Regions from separate parts of the Homo sapiens genome. Here region 1 is linked to region 2. The links come from fine-mapping of genetic effects on gene expression. A gene starts in region 2. The other region holds a variant in brackets. All regions are shown on one strand. Distances are from middle to middle.

Region 1 (12,418 bases), 100 kb after region 2:
TGCGGGTGCTGAGTTGAGGCTGTGCCCTTTCCCACTATAATACGCCAAGCGTGCGTTCTGCCGTTCCCTCCGACACGCGCGACGCCACCTTCTCCCATTTCTGCCTGCCACAGTACCATGGGGCGCAAGTTGGACCCTACGAAGGAGAAGCGGGGGCCAGGCCGAAAGGCCCGGAAGCAGAAGGGTGCCGAGACAGAACTCGTCAGATTCTTGCCTGCAGGTAAGGATTAGTTGTGGCCTCCTGATCCCTCAGCTTTTGCAGTATTCTGTATTATAACCTCTTCTCTTTTTTAGTTTCTGTTCATTTTATATTTAAGTGGAATCTTCTCTGTATGAGTTACTAGGAGGTATGAATGAAACAGCCGTTTAGATTGTAGGGAACTGTTTAGGTCGTAGAGATGTGAAGACACGGACACAACTATTATTCATGCAAGGGAAAAGTGTGATTTAAAACAATTGTGAGTTCAGAGGAAGGGGGAGCCCATGCAGAACTGTAAAAGTTTTTGTTAAGCTGGGTTTTGAAAAATGGGTAACATTGTAGCAAGAGGAAGTAGTGAAGGGGAGGGGTCAGTCACTGATTTGCCTTTTGGAAGGGGTGGAAATGGAAAAGCACGGATCTGGCTGCTTCATGCCGAGTAGTAGTATACTGTGTGGAAGACTGGTGGGAGGTAACACTGGACCGGGAGTTTGTGTTGGGCATTGGATAAAGGATGCAGTTTATTGAGATAGTAGGAAGTCCTGGGCACTGTATTAAACTTGTTGGTCATGTTATATCGCTTAATCATCTTAGAGTCCTGTGAGAGAGGCACTATTAAGGAAACACTTTGGGAGGCCGAGGCAGGTGGATCACCTGAGGTCCAGTGTTCGAGACCAGCCTGGCCAACATGGTGAAACCCTGTCTTTACTAAAAATACAACAATTAGCTGGGTGTGGTGATGGGAGGCTGAGGCAATAGAATCGCTTGAATCTGGGAGAAGGAGGTTGCAGTGAGTTGAGATCACGCCATTGCACTCCAGCCTGGAAGACAAGAGTGAAACTCCATTTCAAAAAAAAAAAAGAAACTTGTATACAGTTATTAAATAATAACAGGGCTGAGATTTAAATGGACTCCTTTTAATTAGTGTACTAATTCTCTTACCATGTTTATTTCCGTTCCCATTTATTTTTAATGTCCCCTGTAACTTGTTCTGCCTCGTTTTTCTTTTTTAAACAGTAAGTGACGAAAATTCCAAGAGGCTGTCTAGTCGTGCTCGAAAGAGGTAAGTGTGGGTGTCAAAACTTAAGTAGGTTAAATTGGTACTGCTCATCTTTGACCACAGAGTTAATTCTAGACTCTCACATTTCCCTATGGTGGAAATGGCAGAGCCTGGAAGTATCTTCCCATTTCTTCACTCCTTGAATCTCTTGTGTCTTTTCAGGGCAGCCAAGAGGAGATTGGGCTCTGTTGAAGCCCCTAAGACAAATAAGTCTCCTGAGGCCAAACCATTGCCTGGAAAGCTACCAAAAGGTCCGTGAAACTAAGAGCTGGATGCTACATGAGGAGTCCCTTTGGGTCCTGGGTAGGGAAGAACTCGCTAAACATTTCCGGAGTGAAAGGAACAGCCAAAGGACATTCTGAGGGGTAGAAAGTACAGGCTCCCAGGGTGTGGGGCCAGGGAATGTGTGGCTGCCATTAGTCCAGGACTCTTCAAACCCTTAGGGATCTCTGCAGGAGCTGTCCAGACAGCTGGTAAGAAGGGACCCCAGTCCCTATTTAATGCTCCTCGAGGCAAGAAGCGCCCAGCACCTGGCAGTGATGAGGAAGAGGAGGAGGAAGACTCTGAAGAAGATGGTATGGTGAACCACGGGGACCTCTGGGGCTCCGAGGACGATGCTGATACGGTAGATGACTATGGAGCTGACTCCAACTCTGAGGATGAGGAGGAAGGTGAAGCGGTGAGATTCATCTTTTTGGGCATTCATAGAAGGATCCTTGCTATTTAGTTTCTTTCCCAGATTCTTGAGACTGTTTCTTAGTGGCAAGGATAAGCCTGACTAGAGGAAAGGGGTTTTTGTGCTCCATCACTGTTTCCCTACTGCCTTATATCCTCCCAGTGCACTACAAGTTTGAAAGAGCTGTAGGATAGAGCATTTAAAAAAATCTAGAAGGCTGTCTTGGTGTAGGTATGGGAAGGTGGACAATGGTGTGCTCCACTGATGGGCACAGAAATGCACTTTTTATAAAGCAGTTATCTCAGAACTTTGAAAAATTTGTTCCTTTTGGCTGGGTATGGTGCCTCACATCTGTAATCCCAGCACTTTGGGAGGCTGAGGCAGGAGGATTGCTTGAGCCCAGGAATTGGAGACCAGCTTGGGCAACATAGGGAGATCCCGTATCTACAAAAAATTAAAAAATTGGCCTGGCACAGTGGCTCATGCCTATAATCCTAGCACTTTGGGAGGCCAAGGTGGGCGGATCACCTGAGCTCCGGAGTTCGAGACCAGCCTGGACAATATGGCGAAACCCCATCCCTACTAAAAATATGAAAATTAGCTGGTGTGGTGGTATATGCCTGTAATCCCAGCTACCTGGGAGGCTGAGGCAGGAAAATTGCTTGAACCTGTGAGGCGGAGATGGCAGTGAGCCGAGATCATGCCATTGCACTCCAGCCTGGGCAACAAAGTGAGACTCTGTCTCAAAAAAAAAAAAAGTTAAGTTAAAAAATGGTTTAAAAATTAGCTGGGTGTGGTGGCGTACGCCTGTAGTCCCAGCTTCTCAGGATGCTGAAGCGGGAAGATGACTGGAGCTTGGGAGGTTGAGGCTGCAGTGAGCTGTGATCTTACCACTGCACTCCAGCTTGGGTGACAGAGTGAGACTGTCTCAAAAAAAAAAAAAAAAAATAACTGCTTCCTTTTGACATAGTAATTCCCTATTAAGGAAGATGATCCAAAATGTCAGCAAATAGTTCTTTACTGAGGTGCAGGAAGTTATTATACAATTAGTGTGTGGATGTATTATTAGAATCGTATAGAATAAAAAGAGAAGGTCCCCATGTGCACCCCCTTCCTACATCCCCTTGTATCTACAGGGTCATTATTAGGTTTGCAGGCACCATGTGGATCATAATGCCAAAAACTCAGGAAACTTCCAAAATACACAATATGCTTAAGTAAGTTATGGTTCATGCATATGATGCAGTTACACTGGTCATTATGTCTATGAAAATGCCTGTGATGTAACTGAAGTCTAAAAAGCAAGAAACAAACTTGAAAATGGATTATGTGAAAAATACAGAGTAAGTAAAAAAAAAAAAAAAACGACAAAATGGGCCAGGCACGGTGGCTCACACCTGTAATCCCAGCACTTTGGGAGGCCGAGGTGGGCGGATCACCTGAGGTCAGGAGTTCAAAACCAGCTTGGCCATCATGGTGAAACCCCATCTCTGCTAAAAATACAAAAAATTAGCTGGGCATGGTGGTGCGCGCCTATAATCCCAGCTACTTGGGAGGCTGAGGCAGGAGAATCATTTGAACCTGGGAGGCGGAGGTTGCAGTGAGCCAAGACGCGCCATTGCACTCCAGCCTGGGGGACAAGAGCGAGACTTCTCTCAAAAAAAATATGGCAGAATGGTAGTCAAGGGCCATTTTTGTCCTTCTTTATACATCCAGGTATTTTTCAAGTTTTTTTTTTTTCTTAATGGAAAAGTGAAAAACATAATAGTAGAAAGAAAAATGTAATGAACCCTTTAATTTATTACTTAGGTTTTTTTTTTTTTTTTTTGAGATGAAGTCTTTCTCTGTTGCCCAGGCTGGAGTGCAGTGGCTCGGTCTTGGCTCACTGCAACCTCCACCTCCCGGGTTCAAGCAATTCTCCTGCCTCAGCTTCCCAAGTAGCTGGGATTTACAGGTGTGTGCCACCATGCCCTCATTACTTAGTTTCAACAGTGAGCAATGCTGCGCCCATCTTATTTTCATTTCTTTGCTCCTCTATTTCCTTCTGAGAGCAAGTGTTGGATTTTTATTTAGCGAAAAAATAAGATATAGAGATAGAACTGCTACAAGGGCTGATGGAAGGGCAGGCCTGTATTAATAGCCCTTGTCTCTCTTCAGTTGCTGCCCATTGAAAGAGCTGCTCGGAAGCAGAAGGCCCGGGAAGCTGCTGCTGGGTGAGTTTTGGAAGCTATTGGGATGGAGCATAGGAAGCCACTGGGGTGGGGAAGCTGTGAGGAAGGAGGAGGTATCTGTTTTGGTCTGTGAATCACTCTGTTCCTGGACCTGTTTCTAGGATCCAGTGGAGTGAAGAGGAGACCGAGGACGAGGAGGAAGAGAAAGAAGTGACCCCTGAGTCAGGCCCCCCAAAGGTGGAAGAGGCAGATGGGGGCCTGCAGATCAATGTGGATGAGGAACCATTTGTGCTGCCCCCTGCTGGGGAGATGGAGCAGGATATCCTTGCAGGGCAGAGTGAAGAGTTAGGAGGAAGGTGGTTGGGAGAGGGATTTCCAGGCCTTAGGACATCATGACACAGTTCCTTAACAGGCCCACATGCCCAGGCTCCAGACCTGCAACGAGTTCACAAGCGGATCCAGGATATTGTGGGAATTCTGCGTGATTTTGGGGCTCAGCGGGAGGAAGGGCGGTCTCGTTCTGAATACCTGAACCGGCTCAAGAAGGATCTGGCCATTTACTACTCCTATGGAGACTTCCTGCTTGGCAAGCTCATGGACCTCTTCCCTCTGTCTGAGGTACTGGATTGCCAGAATGCCTCTTTTGCTTTTCTTTTCTCGCCTCCTTACGCTGTGTAAGGAAGATGTTCGGCCCCCTTGCTCCCCTCTTCTGACTGAGCTCCTTAGCCAGCCTCACTTATTCCCTGCTGTCTTGCCCCGCAGCTGGTGGAGTTCTTAGAAGCTAATGAGGTGCCTCGGCCCGTCACCCTCCGGACCAATACCTTGAAAACCCGACGCCGAGACCTTGCACAGGTGAGGGGTGGCCTTTGAGGCTCACTCATCTCAGAAGGGAAGTGACTTCTGCCAACTCCAGAGATTCCTCTGTGCTACCCTGACTGGGTGGGGCCTTAGGACCTAAGCATGATCCTGGGGGGGCAAACCCAGAGGCCTGATGTCTCTGGCAGGATAGGATCTGGGGGCCTAGGACCTCTGTGGAATGGGAAGTTCATACTCTGCTCCCTGTGACTAGGATGATGAGACTTCAGGATGAGCGTGCTGCCCCCAAGGAAATTGGAGGGAGATCATTGAGGAGCTGGGGAAATATGATTCCTGACTGCACAAAAAAGACACATATGCACAGTCAATATTTTAAACTCATTTCCAAGGGTTCAGGGGCCCCAGGTTAAAGACCCCTGTTGTAAAGTCAGTTGTTGGGTTATATGTGTTGTATATTTCCTGGTGTGAAGAAAACCTAATAATGTAATGTGGTATAACCAATGTCATTAAATTTTTAGTATAGTGGAGGGGCTCAGCCTCTTAGAAAATCAGATGCCACTTCTAGGAAATAAAGTAACAGGAGGTGGCATCCTGCTCCATTGGGATGAAGTTCAGATCTTGAGTTAGGAGCCTGAGGTTAAGAAAAAAGGGCACCATAGGATGGAGTGGGAGAGAGAAACTGCTCAATGACTCCATGATGACTGTGTTTGGAGTAAGCACTATAGGAGTTGTGGGGTATGGGCCATGTTTTTATGAAGCATGTGTTTAATGTCTTCATCTGTCTTCTGGGTAGAGTAGCCTATGAGGTTATTAAAATCTTCATCCCTACCGGGCGCGGTGACTCAACGCCTGTAATCCCAGCACTTTGGGAGGCCGAGGCGGGCAGATCACCTGAGGTCAGGAGTTAGAGACCAGCCTGGCCAACATGGTGAAACCCCATCCTATGAAAAATACAAAAATTAGCCAGGCATGGTGGTACATGCCCGTTGTCCCAGCTACTCAGGAGGCTGAGGCACGAGAGAATCGCTTGAATCTGGGAGGTGGAGGTTGCTGTGAGCCGAGATTGCGCCACCTCACTCTAGCCTGGGCAACAGAGTGAGACTCCATCTCAAAAAAAAAAAAAAAAAATCTTCATCCCTTTTCAGGCTCTAATCAATCGTGGGGTTAACCTGGATCCCCTGGGCAAGTGGTCAAAGACTGGACTAGTGGTGTATGATTCTTCTGTGCCCATTGGTAAGTCTCCCCCACCCAAGAGCCCTTCTACCTCTGTCCCTGTCCCTACCGCATGTCACAGGGTGGTCCTTCTCCACAGGTGCTACCCCCGAGTACCTGGCTGGGCACTACATGCTGCAGGGAGCCTCCAGCATGTTGCCCGTCATGGCCTTGGCACCCCAGGAACATGAGCGGATCCTGGACATGTGTTGTGCCCCTGGAGGAAAGACCAGCTACATGGGTATGAGAGGGGCAGGCAGGTGGGATTCATCGGGCTGTCTTGCTTTTGAAAGTAGATGGGGTTGCTGGGGTTGCTGACTCACTAGTGCTCATGGAACACAATGTGCAGGTAGCTAGCAGGGTGGTGAGGACCAGTTTCTGGAGTCGGCCTGGGTTCCAGTGTGCCACTTACTACCCATCTGACTATGGATTCTCTTTTGTCATCCATAAAATGGGATGGTAATTGTGCTTGGGTTGGCCCTTGTATTACGCTTGGATTGTGAGGGTTAAAATGATGCGTTTAGAAGTCCTTGGCAGTGTTCAGCACATAGTCAGCAGCCATAACTTTTATTAAGCTGCTGTCACTTAAAAGAAGTAATTTAGTATGTAGGACCACATAGGTGTTTGGTAAAAATGGGAAAACCACATCGGTAGACTTGCCGATCACCAGGGGCTAGTGCAGAGTGGATCAGCCTATACAGTAGGCAGGCTTGTTGGGAGCGAAG[T/C]TGCCTTGAGGTGATGACACTTCTCATGTGGATTCCTGGACAGGAGGGTGGGAGCAAGTGTGGAGACAGTGGAACTGGCTGATCAGCACTGTTACTGCCCTCTCTTTAGCCCAGCTGATGAAGAACACGGGTGTGATCCTTGCCAATGACGCCAATGCTGAGCGGCTCAAGAGTGTTGTGGGCAACTTGCATCGGCTGGGAGTCACCAACACCATTATCAGCCACTATGATGGGCGCCAGTTCCCCAAGGTGAGACTCGAGCTGTGTGTCTTCTGAGGCTTCTTCCGGTTGACCTTCTCCCTTCCTGACCTCAATGTTTAGACTCGACCCTAGTAAATATTGCCCTGCTGGTTGCAGAAGAGACATATGATTCATCTGTATCTTTTCTCCAGGTGGTGGGGGGCTTTGACCGAGTACTGCTGGATGCTCCCTGCAGTGGCACTGGGGTCATCTCCAAGGATCCAGCCGTGAAGACTAACAAGGTGAGGAGTCAGGTGGTGGGCCCCTGAGAGGCCTTGGCTGGGTCTCGTAGAGCTGGAAACTGAGATGGGGACACCCTCTGGGCTCCCCTCTCCTCCTGAGGCTGCCTTTGGGTCTCTTTTTGGGACAGGATGAGAAGGACATCCTGCGCTGTGCTCACCTCCAGAAGGAGTTGCTCCTGAGTGCTATTGACTCTGTCAATGCGACCTCCAAGACAGGAGGCTACCTGGTTTACTGCACCTGTTCTATCACAGTGAGACCTCTGCCATGGCAGAGCAGGGGAGGCTGGGCTGGGGGGCTCTTTGCCCCTTAGAGCTCCCTTCAGCTCCAGCTCTGCTTTTTCCTCCGTTCTTTGTCTTCCCCCCACATCCAGGTAGAAGAGAATGAGTGGGTGGTAGACTATGCTCTGAAAAAGAGGAATGTGCGACTGGTGCCCACGGGCCTAGACTTTGGCCAGGAAGGTTTTACCCGCTTTCGAGAAAGGCGCTTCCACCCCAGTCTGCGTTCTACCCGACGCTTCTACCCTCATACCCACAATATGGATGGGTTCTTCATTGCCAAGTTCAAGAAATTTTCCAATTCTATCCCTCAGTCCCAGACAGGTAAGTAATCTTTTTCTTCCCTTCGTCACCACCTTTGCTCTTTCCACCTTTCAGGAGGCTTTATGGTGTGACAAGAGGAAGGGAAAGGAAAGATTCATGCATCCCTTACTCCAGCCTTTGCATGCTTGGCTGAGAGAACCCTCTCATTCCAGCTAGAATTGCTTTTGAGTGCTGGACCCCATGTGAACAGGCTAAAGTGTTCATATGGATGGAGGCCTGTTCCTTTATTCTGCCAAGTGGCTGCAGTTGTTCAGCACTAAATGCATTCCAAATGCAGGTTGTGGTTTCTTTTCCTTCTTGGCACAGGGTGGACTTACTGGTACTGGACCTCTGCTGGTCCAGCAATCTCAGCACTGGGTTGGAACAGAGCTCCACAGAGCTTTGTCAGCAGTTCTCTGAGCCCTTCACACTCATTGCAGATTGTTTTCTCAGCCATCTTGAGGAGTCTGGCCTGGATCTCAAGGGAAGGGTGGGGTTTTCTGAAACAGCCTTGAGAGCACTGCTTACTGGGATATAACCCTGGGTTTAGTTGGAAGAGGGAGAGAAGTGCTACTTTAGAAATAGTAGAATTTGTCTGGGCGTGGTGGCTCATGCCTGTAATCCCAGCACTCACCTGAGGTCAGGAATTCGACACGGTGAAACCCTGTCTCTACTAAAAATATAAGAATTAGCTGGGTGTGGCCAGGCACGGTGGCTCACGCCTGTAATCCCAGCACTTTGGGAGGCCAAGACGGGTGGATCACGAGGTCAGGAGATCGAGACCATCCTGGCTAACACAGTGAAACCCCCATCTCTACTAAAAATATAAAAAATTAGCTGAGCTTGGTGGTGGGCGCCTGTAGTCCCAGCTACTCGGGAGGCTGAGGCAGGAGAATGGCATGAACCCGGGAGGCGGAGCTTGCAGTGAGCTGAGATTGTGCCACTGCACTCCAGCCTGGGCGACAGAGTGAGACTCCGTCTCCAAAAAAAAAAATTAGCTAGGTGTGGTGGTACGTGCCTGTAGTCCCAACTACTCAGGAGGCTGAGGCAGGAGAATCACTTGAACCTGGGAGGTGGAGGTTGCAGTAAGCCGAGATCACGCTATTGCATTTCAGCCTGGGCAACGAGCAAAACTCCATCTCAAAAAAAAGGAATAGTAAAATTTGCTATAACTTAAAAAGTACATATTTTAATTATCCCGCACTTCATCACAATTCACATGGAAAGAAACTTCTCTGATTTAAAAAATAAATAGGCCAGGTGTGGTGATGGCTCATGCCTATAAATCCCAGTACTTTGGGAGGCTGAGGTGGGAAGATTGCTTAAGACCACGAGTTTGAGACCTGTCTGGGCAACAAAGGGAGACAGTAGTTCCAGCTACTCTGGAGGCTGAGGTAGGAGGATCCCTTGAGCCCCAGGAGTTTGAGGTTGCAGTGAGCTATGATGGCACCACTGTACTCCAGCCTGGGCAACACAGTGAGACTCTACCTCAAAAAAAAAAAAAAAAAGATAAATAAAGCCTAGTGCTTCAAATTCATTTAGAAGACCCTGCGAGGCCGGGCGTGGTGGCTCGCGCCTGTAACCCCAGCACTTTGGGTGGCTGAGGCAGGTGGATCACCTGAGGTCAGGAGTTCAAGACCAGCTGGTCAACATGGTGAAACCTCATCTCTACTAAAAATACAAAAATTAGCCGGACATGGTGGCGCACGGTTGTGATTGTCCGGAGGCTGAGGCAGGAGAATTGCTTGAACCCAGGAGGCAGAGGTTGCAGTGAGCCGAGATCACACCACTGCACTCCAGCCTGGGTGACAGAGTGAGATTCCATCTCAAAAAAAGAAAAAAAAAACCCCAAAACCCTGAGAATCACCTCTTCCTTACAGCATCTTGTTACTTCCTGTCCTCAAGAGGGCGCAGCTTCCTGTAGAAACCTTTTGGCCCAAGGATAGGCAGTGATTTTTTTTTTTTTTTTTTTTTTTTTGAGACGGTGTCTTGCTTTGTCGCTCAGGCTGGACTGCAGTGGTGCAATCTCAGCTCATTGCAACCTCCACCTTCCAGGTTCAAGCGATTCTTGTGCCTCAGACTCCCAAGTAGCTAGGATTACAGGTGTGTACCACCATCCCTGGCTAATTTTTGTATTTTTAGTAGAGATGGTTTCACCATGTGGGCTAGGCTGGTCTTGAACTCCTGGCCTCAAGCAATCCACTTGCCTTGGCCTCCCAAAGTGCTGGAATTACAGGTGTGAGCCACCACGCCTGGCCTATAGGCAGTGATCTTTTAATACAAGGTTCAACTAGGACTTGAGTAAAGGCCAAGTTATATTAAGTAATGGGAATTTAGGTAATCTGCTCTTAGGCACTGACCTAATTGTGTGGAGCTCCTGCCCAGGAAATGGCAATTCTCATATTTTAATATGAGAATATTAAAATATGGTGATAAGGCCCATTTTCTGACACCATCTGTTTAATTTTAACCCCAGGAAATTCTGAAACAGCCACACCTACAAATGTAGACTTGCCTCAGGTCATCCCCAAGTCTGAGAACAGCAGCCAGCCAGCCAAGAAAGCCAAGGGGGCTGCAAAGACAAAGCAGCAGCTGCAGAAACAGCAACATCCCAAGAAGGCCTCCTTCCAGAAGCTGAATGGCATCTCCAAAGGGGCAGACTCAGAATTGTCCACTGTACCTTCTGTCACAAAGACCCAAGCTTCCTCCAGCTTCCAGGATAGCAGTCAGCCAGCTGGAAAAGCCGAAGGGATCAGGGAGCCAAAGGTGACTGGGAAGCTAAAGCAACGATCACCTAAATTACAGTCCTCCAAGAAAGTTGCTTTCCTCAGGCAGAATGCCCCTCCCAAGGGCACAGACACACAAACACCGGCTGTGTTATCCCCATCCAAGACTCAGGCCACCCTGAAACCTAAGGACCATCATCAGCCCCTTGGAAGGGCCAAGGGGGTTGAGAAGCAGCAGTTGCCAGAGCAGCCTTTTGAGAAAGCTGCCTTCCAGAAACAGAATGATACCCCCAAGGGGCCTCAGCCTCCCACTGTGTCTCCCATCCGTTCCAGCCGCCCCCCACCAGCAAAGAGGAAGAAATCTCAGTCCAGGGGCAACAGCCAGCTGCTGCTATCTTAGATGGTTGAAAACTAGACGGGTGGCTCACTGCCATTGTCACCAGGTTGGAACTCTTGCCTCTGTGAGGATGCCTTCTCTACTGTGCATACCCATGAAATTTAATACACATTTTAAAACCTCTGGCCACTGAGTATTTTTGAGGGAACTGGGTGCTGCCTTTGCCGCTTTAAGGGTAAAGATGGGAGGTGGGACTGGGATCTTCTGAGGAGAGGGAATGGTTGGGTGCTACTGAGAAATAAGGTCAGTTTTAGGCTCCTGCATCCTTGGGTTTTCCCAGGAAGGGAAAGCCCTGGAGTCAGAGCTAGGGGTGATTGAACTCCGGGGAGAGGAGGGCAATAGAAGTGTAGGGGAAGGCGGGGCACACTAGCTCATGCCTGTAATCCCAGCACTTTCTGGGAGGCCAAGGCGGGTGGATCACCTGAGGTCAGGTGTTCGAGACCAGCCTGGCTAACATGGCGAAACCTCGTCTCTACTAAAAATACAAAAAATCAGCCGGGTGTGGTGGCGGGTGCCTGTAATCCCAGCTACTCGGGAGACTGAAGCAGGAGAATCGCTTGAACCTGGGAGGCTGAGGTTGCAGTGAGCCAAGATCGCGCCACTGCACTCCAGCCCGGGCGACAGTGAGACTCGGTCTCAAAAAAAAAAAAAGTCGTGTAGGGGAGATGGGCTTGCCACCAGAACCCATGGGGTACTGGAGGTCCTGGGCTTTACGCCACCCCGGCTGGAGTCCAGGCGGTGGCTCCCCTCATCACAGGGCTCGGCCTCAGACCCGGAAAGGTCCAGGGTCCGGCCTCCAATTGGAGCCTGTCATTGGCTTCCCCTCGGCCCGCCCCCTGACCTCTGCCCCGCTGCCGAGCCGCCTGATTGGTCGGCTCTGTCCCGCCGGCGCCGCATTGGCTCTTCTGGCTCGCCTTCCATCCCTGCTCCTGCACCGGTCTGCATCTCCCAGCAGAAGGCGCAGCCATGAATCCGTTATTCGGCCCCAACCTCTTCCTCCTGCAGCAGGAGCAGCAGGGCCTGGCCGGGCCACTGGGGGACTCACTGGGAGGCGACCACTTCGCCGGGGGAGGAGACTTGCCCCCGGCGCCTCTCTCGCCGGCCGGCCCTGCTGCCTACTCGCCGCCCGGGCCGGGCCCGGCCCCGCCTGCCGCCATGGCCCTCCGCAATGACCTGGGCTCCAACATCAACGTGCTCAAGACCCTGAACCTCCGGTTCCGCTGCTTCCTGGCCAAGGTGCATGAGCTGGAGCGCCGGAACCGGCTGTTGGAGAAGCAACTGCAGCAAGCGCTGGAGGAGGGTAAGCAGGGCCGGCGGGGCCTGGGTCGTCGCGACCAGGCAGTGCAGACCGGCTTCGTCAGCCCCATCCGGCCCCTGG
Region 2 (12,418 bases):
TCCCTAAAGATCCCCATGCCTCATTTTAAGAACCACTGGACTGGTGAGACGGGCATAAGCTGTCTTGGGATCCTGGTATGTGCTACATGAGGTATGCTTCCACCCTTAGCCTGTAGCTTCTCAAGTTTCATTTGAAACAATTTCTACTTTCTTCAGATAGAGGGAGAAGCTGGGAGGCCTGACACCTACCTTTTTGCTTTCCATCGAGGTCAAGGGGGCAGGAGGAAAGAGTACAATGTATTCATTCTGGTTTCTCCCAATTTTCTCAGTCCCACAGACGGCAACACAACAAAGATAAACCCTTCAAGTGCCACAACTGTCATCGGGCGTACACGGATGCAGCCTCACTAGAGGTGCACCTGTCTACGCACACAGTGAAGCATGCCAAGGTGTACACCTGCACTATCTGCAGTCGGGCATACACATCAGTGAGTGCTCCGTTTCTTCTCTCCTTCCTCATAGTCCTCTAAGAGTACAGTCCACTTCACCCCATTTTCTGGGTAGAGATCTGTTGCAGTGAATACCCTGCCTCCCTAGCTCCAACTTAGCAGAACAGGTAAATATTCAGAAATTAATTAGACCCATTCTGAGGAATTTAGGGGATGCCTGATCTCCTAATCCTATAGAGACGCATAAGCTGTAATTCTTCATTTTACTTAAACATAAGGCAAAATAAAGCCACTTGAAATTTTGAGGGGAGCTGGATTTCAGTTAGGCATTTTCTTCTTCTTTTTTTTTTTTTTTTCTTTTTGAGACACAGTCTCGCCCTGTCACCCAGGCTGGAGTGCAGTGGTGTGATCTCGGCTCGGCTCACTGTAACCTCCACCTCCTGGGTTCAAGCGATTCTCCTGCCTCAGCCTCCCAAGTAGGTGGGATTACAGGTGCATGTTGCCATGCCCAGCAACTTTTTGTATTTTTAGTAGACATGGGGTTTCACCATGTTGCCCAGGCTGGTCTCAAACTCCTGACCTCAAGTGATCCACCTACCTCAGCCTCCCAAAGTACTGGGATTACAGGTGTGAGCCACCGCACCTGGCCCAGTTAGATATTTTCCATGAGACTCCAGAAAAGGTTGTAAAGTTGTTTCATTCAGGGGTCTTTGAAAAAAATAGCAGCTCATTCCTTTGCCAGTTGAATGTTGAGTGACTTCTAAAGGTTCCTCTCTTTTTTTTCTCAGTAGTGAGCCACTGAAAGTGCTACTTGAGTTTTGCTCAGTCTTGGCTCCAGAAAACCAGTATAAAGCTTACTCTGCTTACAGCAGAATCAGAGCCTGGGGTGCTAGTTACAAGTAATCTCTTTTCCTTCCTCTTTATCCCTCAACTTCTTTTTACCATCTCCCTCAGGAAACATACCTTATGAAACATATGCGCAAACACAACCCGCCTGATCTTCAGCAACAGGTGCAGGCAGCAGCAGCAGCGGCAGCAGTGGCCCAGGCCCAGGCTCAAGCTCAAGCCCAGGCTCAGGCTCAGGCTCAAGCCCAGGCCCAGGCCCAGGCCTCCCAGGCATCACAGCAGCAGCAGCAGCAGCAGCAGCAGCAGCAGCAGCAGCAGCAACAGCCACCACCACACTTCCAGTCTCCTGGGGCAGCCCCCCAGGGTGGGGGTGGTGGGGACAGCAATCCCAACCCTCCACCCCAGTGTTCCTTTGACCTGACCCCGTATAAGACGGCGGAGCATCATAAGGACATCTGCCTCACTGTCACCACCAGCACCATCCAGGTGGAGCACCTGGCCAGCTCTTAGAGATCCGTGCTGCCACCCACTGGGAAGAGGAAGAAGTAGTCCTGGTGTCTTCTTTCTCCAACTCTTGGTGGGAAAAGTCCTTTTCTTCCTTGACAGGCCTTGGCTCCATCTCCTTGGGCCTCTGTCACGGCTTTCCTTCACAGGATACCATCCTTTTTCTGAACTCTTCTTCAAAAGGAACATCAGCCCTCCTGATTGCAAAGGAATACTGAGCTGATGGTGTCATCCAGCAGCCTCCCCTCCCAAGCAAAGCTTCTAAAACTGGGGGTCGGTGCTCAAGGGAAGGATTTGCTATGACCTCATAGAACCTTGTCCAGTGTGGCCACTTACCCTATCCTTACCCTCCTTATCCTCAAAGTTTGGGCTGATGTAAGACTAGAGGCTGGCCCTCCCAGATAACAGAGAAAAGGGAGCCCCAAATGCAACCAGCCTCTTGTTCTATTCTTGCCTGCAAAAGAACAGAGGTTTCTCAAATGCCTCAGTCCCTGAGAGCCATTTCTTCCCCTACATCGTCTCACTTTGCTTCCTATTGACTGCTGGTAGAAGGAGATTTGGGGTAGGGGCTAGACCTCCTTTTATTTGAAGGGGGCAAGGGCTGAGATGTGGTCCCCAAGGGGCCAGAAATTCCCAAGTTGGTCACAGGTGGCTTAGAAGTGTGTGTTATGGTTTTACGGATTTCCTTGAAGCCTCTCTCCTTCTCTGCCTACAAAGACCCTATACTCTCAGTCTCCCCAACCCACCCCCAAGGAGCTGTGGGAGGCTTTGTGTTATCTGTGAAACTCCAAAACAGGGGTGTTGCGGAGAAGGGAGAGTTCAAGGCAAACGCAAGGACTGGACTTAGCTCCCTAGGTGCCACAGTCAGATGCCGGACACGGATTTATATATAAATATATATATATAAATATATTATACTCACTCATCACGGCCATCTTTGTTGTAACCATTTCTGTGTTTATAAATGCATTATCTCTGAGAATTTTCATATTTGATGTTTTGTTTATTTTTGTCCTTTTTTTCCCTCTCTCCACCCCTGTCCTCTAGCCACAGCATTTTTCTTTTTGTCTTTTTTTTTTTTTTTTAAATCATGGCAGATTTCAGAGGAAAGGAAATTAAAAAAAAAATCAGGAAACCAGTTGTTATAAAGTAATTTAAAAATGAAGAAAAAAAGAAAAAAACTTATGTACAAACCAAGGGGTGTTTTTAGAACATTGTATAGAAATAAATTCATGTAAAAGGATCAGAGGCAGTGGAGCTACTGATGTGAGCGAGCATGCGGAAAAGGTATTTGGGGAGATGTCCAAGAACAGTACTGAGGATTTATACCAGAGTGTGTGTGTGATGAACAAGTGCTTGTGTGATGATGCCCCATTTGTGCAATTCTCCAGTCATGGAAGGGTACAGTTTCATGATGTCTCCAGTGAAATCCTGGTTTATGAGGACTTCTACATACACATTCTGTCATGGGGATTGCATTGCCTAAATATGTGAGAGCAAGGCTTTGGTTATGTGTTAACAAAACAGCTAAGCTCCCTATGGAAGAAAAATGGAAGCCTCTTGAAAGGACCTACACTCCTGCCTGAGTCTGTGGAAGAGGGGCTTGCAGTTGGCAATGTGTATACATATGTGTATTTGTTACCTTGTGGAAATCATAACCGGTTAAGGGGTGCAAGATTGATTTATGCAGGAGAGCTGTAGTACTATGGAGTAGAATGTGGTCATGAAACCTGGACTTCAGCCCTTTGCCTACCATCAACCAGTGTTGGCCAGGGTGCTTCTTCAACTGTTAGTGAAGGGATTGGACTAGATAACTCTGAAGATACCTTTTTTGAGAATTAAGTAACTTGCTTTAAGGCTGGGTGCGGTGGCTCACGCCTGTAATCCCAGCATTTTGGGAGGGCGAGGCAGGCAGACTACTTGACGTCAGGAGTTCAAGACCAGCCTGGCCAACATGGTGAAACCCCATCTCTACTAAAAATACAAAAATTGATGGCCGTGCACGGTGGCTCACGCCTGTAATCCCAGCACTTTGGGAGGCCGAGACAGGTGAATCATGAGGTTAGGAGCTCGAGACCAGCCTGGCCAGTATGGTGAAACCCCGTCTCTACTGAAAATACAAAAAATAAGCTAGGCATAGTGGTGGGCGCCTGCAATCCCAGCTACTCAGGAGGCTGAGGCAGGAGAATCTTTTGAACCTAGGAGGCAGAGGTTGCAGTGAGCCAAGATCGTGCCATGGCACTCCAGCCTGGGCGACAGAGTGAGACTCTCTCTCAAAAAAGTAAAATAAAAATACAAAAATTAGCCAGGTGTGGTGGCACGCGCCTGTAGTCCCAGCTGCAGGCTGAGGCAGAAGAATGACTTGAACCTGGGAGGCGGAGGTTGCAGTGAGCCGGGATTGCACCACTGCACTCCAGCCTGGGCCACAGAGCGAGATTCTGTCTGGAAAAAAAAAAAAAAACAAAAAAAAAAAAACCTTGCTTTAAGCACCGAAAAAGTTGTGAAAGTTGTGACCAAGCTCCCACATCCTGAGAACTCTGGGACTGCTGGCCAATAGTACTTGTTATGTAGTTGGGCTGGGATAAATAAAGCCCACTTAATTTAGTGCTAGATATCCTGTGTGGGCACCTAAGATGGTGTCTCAATATGTTGTGTAATACCAATGAATGTATCACATATGACCAAATATGCCAATGTTTCTTAGCTCCCTGCATATTTACTGCTTTTTCCTCCCACTCTCACCAACTCTTGAAAAGGCCCTAATGGCCCTAACTTCATCACCAGTATTAGAACTAGAATCTACTCTTTTTATGGATACACTCACACTCACTTATTCCAACAACCCTATGAGGGAGGTAGTAGTCTCATTGTATAGTAAAACAGGCACAGAGATCAAGTTACCGAAAAGCATGACTTTTGTAATTAGAGCAGTTTCCCGGATTCTATTGCTGTATCTTACTACCTGCACACTAGTAAACCTGGGGTTTACAGGCTACAGATCCTTTCAGCTCTGATACCCCCACCACTCTACAGCCCCTGAACCCCCTCCTCCAGCCTGCTCTTACTGTCCAGATAATGTTTCAAATACATCCCTGCATCCATCTCGAAGCAAAACAAAGCAACTTCCAATCCGCCCCGGGTTGGAAGTTCCTCTTCTCCACATATTTGGTAGAAATTATATAGCTGAAAGTCTGTCTCTTTAAAAACTTGCCGTAAGACATTGGTAATTCTTATGAAGGATGTGTGAGGGTACGAAAAGTGTGAGGGGTGGCAGCTATCTCTAAAATACTATCTTACTAACACCACTATTAGGTTATGGCCTTTGTGTTGGCAGTGTGTTGACAGCCTAGTGTGTTGGCAGCCTCTCATACCCTTGACTGCTTCCCATTCTGATGAAAACCATAGAAATCACTCTACCATAGCTGACTAGAGTGATGGCTAGCAACTAACTAGCCAACTAGCCCAGTAGTGATACTGCTGCATCCCTCAATCCCTTCAGAATTATGATGCTAACATCACATATAAACAAAAGGAAAACAAAAACACGAGATTTCCCCCTTAGAGAGTAGCAAGAGGGGCCAGGCACAGTGGTTCGCACCTGTAATCCCAGCACTTTGAGAGGCTGAGGTGGGCAGATCACCTGAGGTCGGAAGTTCGAGACCAGCCTCACCGACATGGAGAAACCCCATCTCTACTAAAAATACAAAATTAGTCTGGCGTGATGGTGCATACCTGTAATCCCAGCTACACGGGAGGCTGAGACAGAAGAATCACTTGAACCCGGGAGGTGGAGGTTGCGGTGAGCCATGATCACGCCATTGCACTCCAGCCTGGGCAATAAGAGTGAAAATTCTGTCTCAAAAAAAAAAAAAAAAAAGCAAGAGGGCAAGGCAGGAAGTAATATTTTATATGTGAAAGTGTATTCTAGTGTAACGTACAGGAGCTCTGACAAAAGATGTGCAGAATTATAGCTTTATTATGAGTCATTCTTTGTATTTATAAGTAGAAAGGTGATCATCTTTCTCAAGTTAAAAAAATAATGCTGGGGGAGATGGTGTTTGTGTGAGTGAATAGAAATTCAGACGGTTTAAATGTCTCAAGGCCTGATACTCTTCCCCAACTTCCTTAAGAAACTAACTGGCTTGAAAAAAGTCATTCTGCAAAAGAGGGAAAAAAAGTTGGATCTTCCAGTTGCTGAGAAGGTATGTTTACGCAATATGAGCCTAAAGTGAACAGTTACCCCTGCACGGATTACCATACATTCCCGTTTTGGAGGGAAAAAAGTTTGCTAGAGAATGCAAAATGGCGACCTCCAGTGACGTCATACCTGTCTCGGTCGCGTCCTGGGGTGTCTGTAAGGGCGGAAGCGGGCTACAGCCGCCTCACTGTGGGCGGTCGTGGCTACCATGCAAAAGGAAAAGTTTCAGTGTCGGGCGGATGTGTACCGGCGGTAATATAGTAAGGGCGGAAGTTCTCCTTTAAGGGCGGAAGTTCTCCTTTTAAGGGCGGAAGTTCTCCTTTTAAGGGCGGAAAGGCTTTAGCCGCAAAATGGCTTCGGCCCCTGTCGCGTTACAGTCACTTCCGGGGCGGATCGGAAGTTGCTTTGTTTTGCTTCGAGATGGCTGCGGGGATGTATTTGGAACATTATCTGGACAGTAAGAGCAGGCTGGAGGTGGGGGTCGGGGCTGCAGAGTGGTGCGGGGATCAGGGATGAGAGGATCTGTAGCCCTTAAGTTCCAGTGACGAGAAGGTCACAATTATGAAGCGGTTCTGTGGCAGGAAATATTGGAGGGTGCGGAGAAAGAGGGGGCGGGGCAGCAGGATCGAGGCCCCGCTGATGGGTGTAGACGAGGGAGGGGTGCGGTGTGGGGGTTAGAGACGTGTCTTGAAGGGCTAGTGTGCATGGCCAGGAAGATAGTTGCTGCCCCCATTCTCCAGGGTCTCCAGCCTCGGTAGATTTTTTTCCCCATAGTCGTTCAGAATCGTTATCACACACTGCCATTTGGAGAAGCGGTAAAGACCTCTCCTCCACTCCATTCTTCCTCAAAAGTGGCTTCTCATGGGGTTGAGAGTGGTGGTGATGAGTGACCACTGTCAGATGATGAACTAGAACGCTTCTCTTCATGGAGTAAAGATCTAATTCCCATCAAATGAAAATCTGGTGTTTATGCGATTTATGTAAACCACCCCTGCAGAAAGCCTATTGCTCTGTGCGCTTACATTTGTTTTAGGGCCCGGAGTCATTTATTCAACAAATATTTATTGAGGTCCTGCTATGGGTCAGACATAATGGCAGGCACTAGGGATAGAAAAATGAGTAAGACAAGGCTCCTGCCCTCAAGAAGCTCACGATCTAGTAGGAAACAGATTCTGCAAATAATTATAAAACACTGTGACAAGTGAGATAATGGAAATACATTAAAAAGGACACTTGGTAGGCAACCCTGGAGAAAAGGGGGGTAATTACCTGGGGATGTAGGAAAAGCTTTACAGCGGAGGTGATGTTTGAATAGGGTCTTGAAGGTTATTTGCCAGTGAGGAGAGAAAAAAGGAATTCCAGGTTGGGGAAAGCATCCGCAAAGGTACTGTGATGGGTTTGTGGCAAGGTCAAGGGTGTTTGATATTTATGACTCAGAGGTCAGCGTATTTGATATTTATGAATCTAAGGTAAGAAATTGAGAAAGGAGACTGGAGAAAGAGGCTGAGGCTAGATTGGACAAGGTCTTTTAAGCCAAACGAAGAAGTTTGCATTTTAAAGTAGAGTATGATTTTTATAGAGGAAAATGACTAATATATGGTAAATTGGAGCATGATATTGTTGATAACAGAGATCAATTAGTGATAACATTCCAGGACAGAGATAAGAACCTGATTTTAGGGAGTTACAGAAGTATTTAGGAGTTAAATATGAAAGGACTGACTGAATGACTGAGTGGTTGAGAGAGAAGGAAGAATCTAAGGTGGCTTCTTCCTGCTTAGAAAGTGAGGTAGACAGGCTGGGCACAGTAGCTCATGCCTGTAATCTCAGCACTTTGGGAGGCCAAGGCGGGCAGATCACTTGAGGTCAGGAGTTTGAGATCACCCTGTCCAACATGGTGAAGCCCAGTCTCTACTTTAAAAAAAAAAAAAAATTAGCTGGGCATGGTGGCATGTGACTGTAATCCCAGCTACTTGGGAGGCTGAGTCAGGAGAATCACTTGAACCCAGCAGGTGAAGATTGCAGTGAGCTAAGATCATACATACCACTGCACTCCAGCCTGGGTGACAGAGAAAGACTCCGTGTCCCTCTCAAAAAAAAAAAAAAAAAAAAAAACAAAGGCTGGTGGCCAGGCACGGTGGCTCATGCCTGTAATCCCAACACTTTGGGAGGCTGAGGCAGGCGGATCATGAGGTCAGGAGATCGAGACCAGCCTGGCTAACATGGTGAAACCCCGTCTCTACTAAAAATAAAAAAAATAGCCAGGTGTGGTGGTGTGCCCCTGTAGTCCCAGCTACTTAGGAGGCTAAGGCAGGAGAATCGCTTGAACCTGGGAGGTGGAGGTTGCAGTGGGCCGAGATCATGCCACTGCACTCCAGCCTGGGCAACAGAGTGAGACTCCGCCTCAAAAAAAAAACAAAAACAAAAAGGCTGGGAGCGGTGGCTCACGCCTATAATCCTAGCACATTGGGAGGCTGAGATGGGTGGATCGCCTTAGGTCAGGAGTTCCAAGACCAGCCTGGCTAACATAGTGAAACCCCGTCTCTACTAAAAATACAAAAATTAGCTGGGCGTGGTGGCAGACGCCTGTAATCCCAGCTACTTGGGAGGCTGAGGCACAAGAATTCCTTGAACCTGAGATTGCGCCATTGCACTCCAGCCTGGGCGACAAGAGCGACACTACACCTCAAAAGAAAAGAAAAGAAAGTTACTCAGCGGAGAAAAGATCATGCCAACTGCTGCAGAGATATTTTTTAGGATAGGCTTAATAACACCATTAGATTTGGTAAATCACCAGTGACTCAGTCTTGTGAACTGGTGGTAGCAGACCTGAAGTTGTAGGTTTAAACAGTAGAGGCATTTTATTTTTTTTTATTTATTTTATTTTAGTTTTTCTGTTTGTTTGTTTGTTTTTGAGACAGAGTCTCACTCTGTCACCCAGGCTGGAGCGCAATGGTGCGATCTTGGCCCACTGCAACCTCTGCCTCCCGGGTTCAAGTGATTCTCCTGCCTCAGCCTCTTGAGTAGCTAGGATTACAGTGCCCGCCACCATACCCAGCTAATTTTTGTATTTTTAGTAGAGATGAGGTTTCACTGTGTTGGCCAGGCTGGTCTCAAACTCCCAACCTCAGGTGATCCACCCACCTTGGCCTCCCAGAGTGCTGGGATTACAGGCATGAGCCACCGTACCAGGCCTTTTATTTTTTATATATATATTTAATTTTTATAGAGACAGGATCTGGCCATATTGCCCAGGCTGGTCTCAGACTCCTGAGATCAAGCGATCTACCTGCCTTGGCCTCCCAGAATGCTGGGATTACAGGCGTGAGCCACTGTGCCCAGCAAGTAGAGGCATTTTTAAAGTTTTAGGTGGAGTCTTGGCAAGAGATTTCTCTTGTACTGGGGTGACAAATATTCATGCATTTATTCAAGTATTTACTGAGTACCTGCTCTTTGCAAGTCATAATTCTAAACACTATGGAAACAGGAGAGAATATGATAGCCATGTTCGGCCTGGGGAGACAGATACCAAATAACTAATTACACATTATTTTTTTTAATTTTTTTGTTTTTTGAAACAGTCTTGCTCTTTTGCCCGGGCTGCAACCTCTACCTCCCTGGTTCAAGCAATTGTCCTGCCTCAGTCTCTTGAGTAACTGGAACTACAGCCACAGGCCACCATGCCCATCTATTTTTTTTTTTTTTTTTTGAGACAGAGTCTCGCTCTGTCGCCCAGGCTGGAGTGCAGTGGAGCGATCTCGGCTCACTGAAAGCTCCACCTCCTGGATGCACGCCACTCTCCTGCCTCAGCCTCCCGAGTAGCTGGGACTACAGGCGCCCGCCACCACGGCCAGCTAATTTTTTTGTATTTTTAGTAGAGACGGGGTTTCACCATGTTAGCCAGGATGGTCTCAATCTCCTGACCTCGTAATCTGCTCTCCTCGGCCACCCAAAGTGCCGGGATTACAGGTGTGAGCCACCGCGCCTGGCCTAATTTTTGTTTTGTTTTGTTTTTGAGATGGAGTCGCACTCTGTCACCCAGGCTGAAGTGCAGTGGTGCGATCTCAGCTCACTGCAACCTCCACCTCCCGGATTTAAGCAATTCTTGTGCCTCAGCCTCCCAAGTATCTGGGATTACAGGTTTCACCATGTTGGCCAGGCTGGTCTTGAACTCCTGGCTTCAAGTGAGCCACCCGCCTCGGCCTCCCAAAGTGCTAGAATTACAGGCATGAGCCACCGTGCCTGGCCCTAATTTTTGTATTTTTAGTAGAGATGGGGTTTTGCCAGGCTGCCAAGGCTGGTCTTGAACTCCTGGCCTTGAGTGATCCACCTGCCTTCCAGAGTGCTGGATTACAGGCATGGGCCACCGCACCCAGCCAACTAATTACACATTTATTTAATTACAGTTGGATAAGTGCTTTAAAAAGGTGGCTAGAATACCTTGACATAGATCGAGGGCAGTTAACAGAGTCTGGGAAAGTTGAGTTTGAGCTGAACTTTGGAAGAACGAACAGGAATTTAATAGGCCAAGAGGGATGGGGTGGATGGGATGAGGAAAAGCGAGCGGTGCATTCCAACTAGAGAGAACAGCATGTGGAAAGCCAAATGGCAGGAGGAGCACAGGCCAGTTTGAGGCAGTGCGAGGAGGCCAGTATGGGCAAAGCAGAGCACAAAGGGAGACTGACATGAGTTCAGGCTGGTGTGAGGTAAGCAAGGGCCAGAAAGCGCAGAACATCTTCAGAGCAGTAGGAAGTGACCAGAAGGTTATAAGCGGGAGAGTGACTTGATTAGGTTTGCATTTTTTATTTTTGTGTTTGTTTTTGTTTTTGTTTTTTTGAGTCAGTGTCTTGCTCTGTCATCCAGGCTGGAGTGCATTGGCGTGATCTCGGCTCACTGAAATGTCCACCTCCCAGGTTCAAGGGATTTTTGTGCCCCAGCCTCCCAAGTAGCTGGGATTACAGGCATGTGCACCAAGCCTGGCTAAGTTTTTGTATTTTTGGTAGAGACAGAGTTTCACCATGTTGCCCAGGCTGGTCTTGAACTCCTCAGCTCAGCTGATGCGCCCACCTGGGCCTCCCAAAGTGCTGGGATTACAGGCATGAGCCACCGTGCCTGGCCAGGTTTGCATTTTTTAAAAAGGACATTCTGGCTACTATATGGAAGTAGATTGGAAGTGTTATGTGTATAATAGAGGATACCAGGAGACTATTTGTAATTTGAGGACAAAGAGCTTGGAGGCAGAGATGGAAAATAAAAGAAAGGGGCCCGTCTTAGTGGCTCATGCCAGTAATCCCAGCACTTTGGGAGATCAAGGCGGGCGGATCACCTGAGGCCAGGAGTTCAAGACCAGTCTGGCCAAAATGGTGAAACCCTGTGTCTACTAAAAATACAAAAATTAGTCGGGTGTGGTGGCGCGCGCCTGTGGTCCCAGCTACTCCAGAGGCTGAGGCAGGAGAATCACTTGAACCCAGGAGGTGGAGGCTGCAGTGAGCCAAGATCGTGCCACTGCACTCCAGCCTGGGCAACAGAGCCAGACTCCGTCTCAAAAAACAAAAAAGGAAAAGAAAGGGAAGAGCTTTTTTTTTTTTTTTTGGAGACAGAGTCTCGCTCTGTCACCAGGCTGGAGTGCAGTAGTGCAGTCTTGGCTCACTGCAACCTCTGCCTCCCAGGTTCAAGTGATTCTCCTGCCTCAGCCTCCTGAATAGCTGGGATTACAGGTACGTGCCACCACACCTGGCTAATTTTTATATTTTTAGTAGAAACAGGCTTTCACCATGTTGGCCAGGCTGGTCTCGAACTCCTGACCTCGTGATCCACCCGCCTCAACCTCCCAAAGTGCTGGGATTACAGGCTTGAGCCACCACACCTGACGGGAAGAGCTTATTTATAAAGGAAGGTCACTGAAGGCGAAAAGGGTGGGATAGCCATGCAGAAATGGAAAGGTTTTGTAGAGAAAGAGTTAAGCATGGCCTGTCATGAGAGAACTGATCCATCCTGTCACAGATAAATCCAGAGGTTCAGAGGAAGGAAAACTGAGCTGCACTTTATTTTTTGTTTGTTTGTTTGTTTGTTTGAGATGGAGTCTCACTGTGTCGCCCAGGCTGGAGTGCAGTGGTGCGATCTCGGCTCACTGCAAACTCCGCCTCCCAGGTTCATGCCATTCTCCTGCCTCAGCCTCCTGAGTAGCTGGGAGTACAGGCGCCCGCCATCGCACCTGGCTAATTTTTTGTATTTTTAGTAGAGACGGGGTTTCACCATGTTAGCCAGGATGGTCTCAATCTCCTGACCTCGTGATCTGCTCTCCTCGGCCTCCCAAAGTGCTGGGATTACAGGTGTGAGCCACCATGCCTGGCCATTTGTTTGTTTTTGAGACAGGGACTTGCTCTATTGCCCAGGCTGGAGTGCAGTGGCTCAATCACGGCTCACTGCAACCTCTGCCTCCTGGATTCAAGTGATTCTCATGCCTCAGCCTCCCAAGTAG

Evidence for each region.
Region 1: its variant is fine-mapped to the expression of ING4 in whole blood (INTERVAL, PIP 0.94).

What each region holds. Positions count from the first base shown.
Region 1 is chr12:6,555,618-6,568,035 of GRCh38, reverse strand. It overlaps NOP2 (NOP2 nucleolar protein), which reads left to right. Exons shown (of 16, transcript NM_001258308.2): 2 at 114-220; 3 at 1,214-1,259; 4 at 1,419-1,507; 5 at 1,700-1,935; 6 at 4,090-4,145; 7 at 4,265-4,422; 8 at 4,522-4,721; 9 at 4,866-4,955; 10 at 6,065-6,152; 11 at 6,232-6,372; 12 at 6,966-7,105; 13 at 7,249-7,338; 14 at 7,467-7,589; 15 at 7,710-7,938; 1 more. The coding sequence starts at 118. The coding sequence ends at 11,043. IFFO1 (intermediate filament family orphan 1) reads left to right here and starts at 11,994. Exons shown (of 10, transcript NM_001193457.2): 1 at 11,994-12,418. The coding sequence starts at 12,007. RefSeq lists silencers at 11,817-11,976, 12,027-12,266, 12,377-12,418. The variant T/C (reference allele first, on the strand shown) is at 6,857.
Region 2 is chr12:6,657,041-6,669,458 of GRCh38, reverse strand. ING4 (inhibitor of growth family member 4) reads left to right here and starts at 6,340. Exons shown (of 8, transcript NM_016162.4): 1 at 6,340-6,394. The coding sequence starts at 6,358. It overlaps ZNF384 (zinc finger protein 384), which reads left to right. Exons shown (of 12, transcript NM_001385745.1): 11 at 270-428; 12 at 1,344-2,982. The coding sequence ends at 1,745. RefSeq lists an enhancer at 6,310-6,369.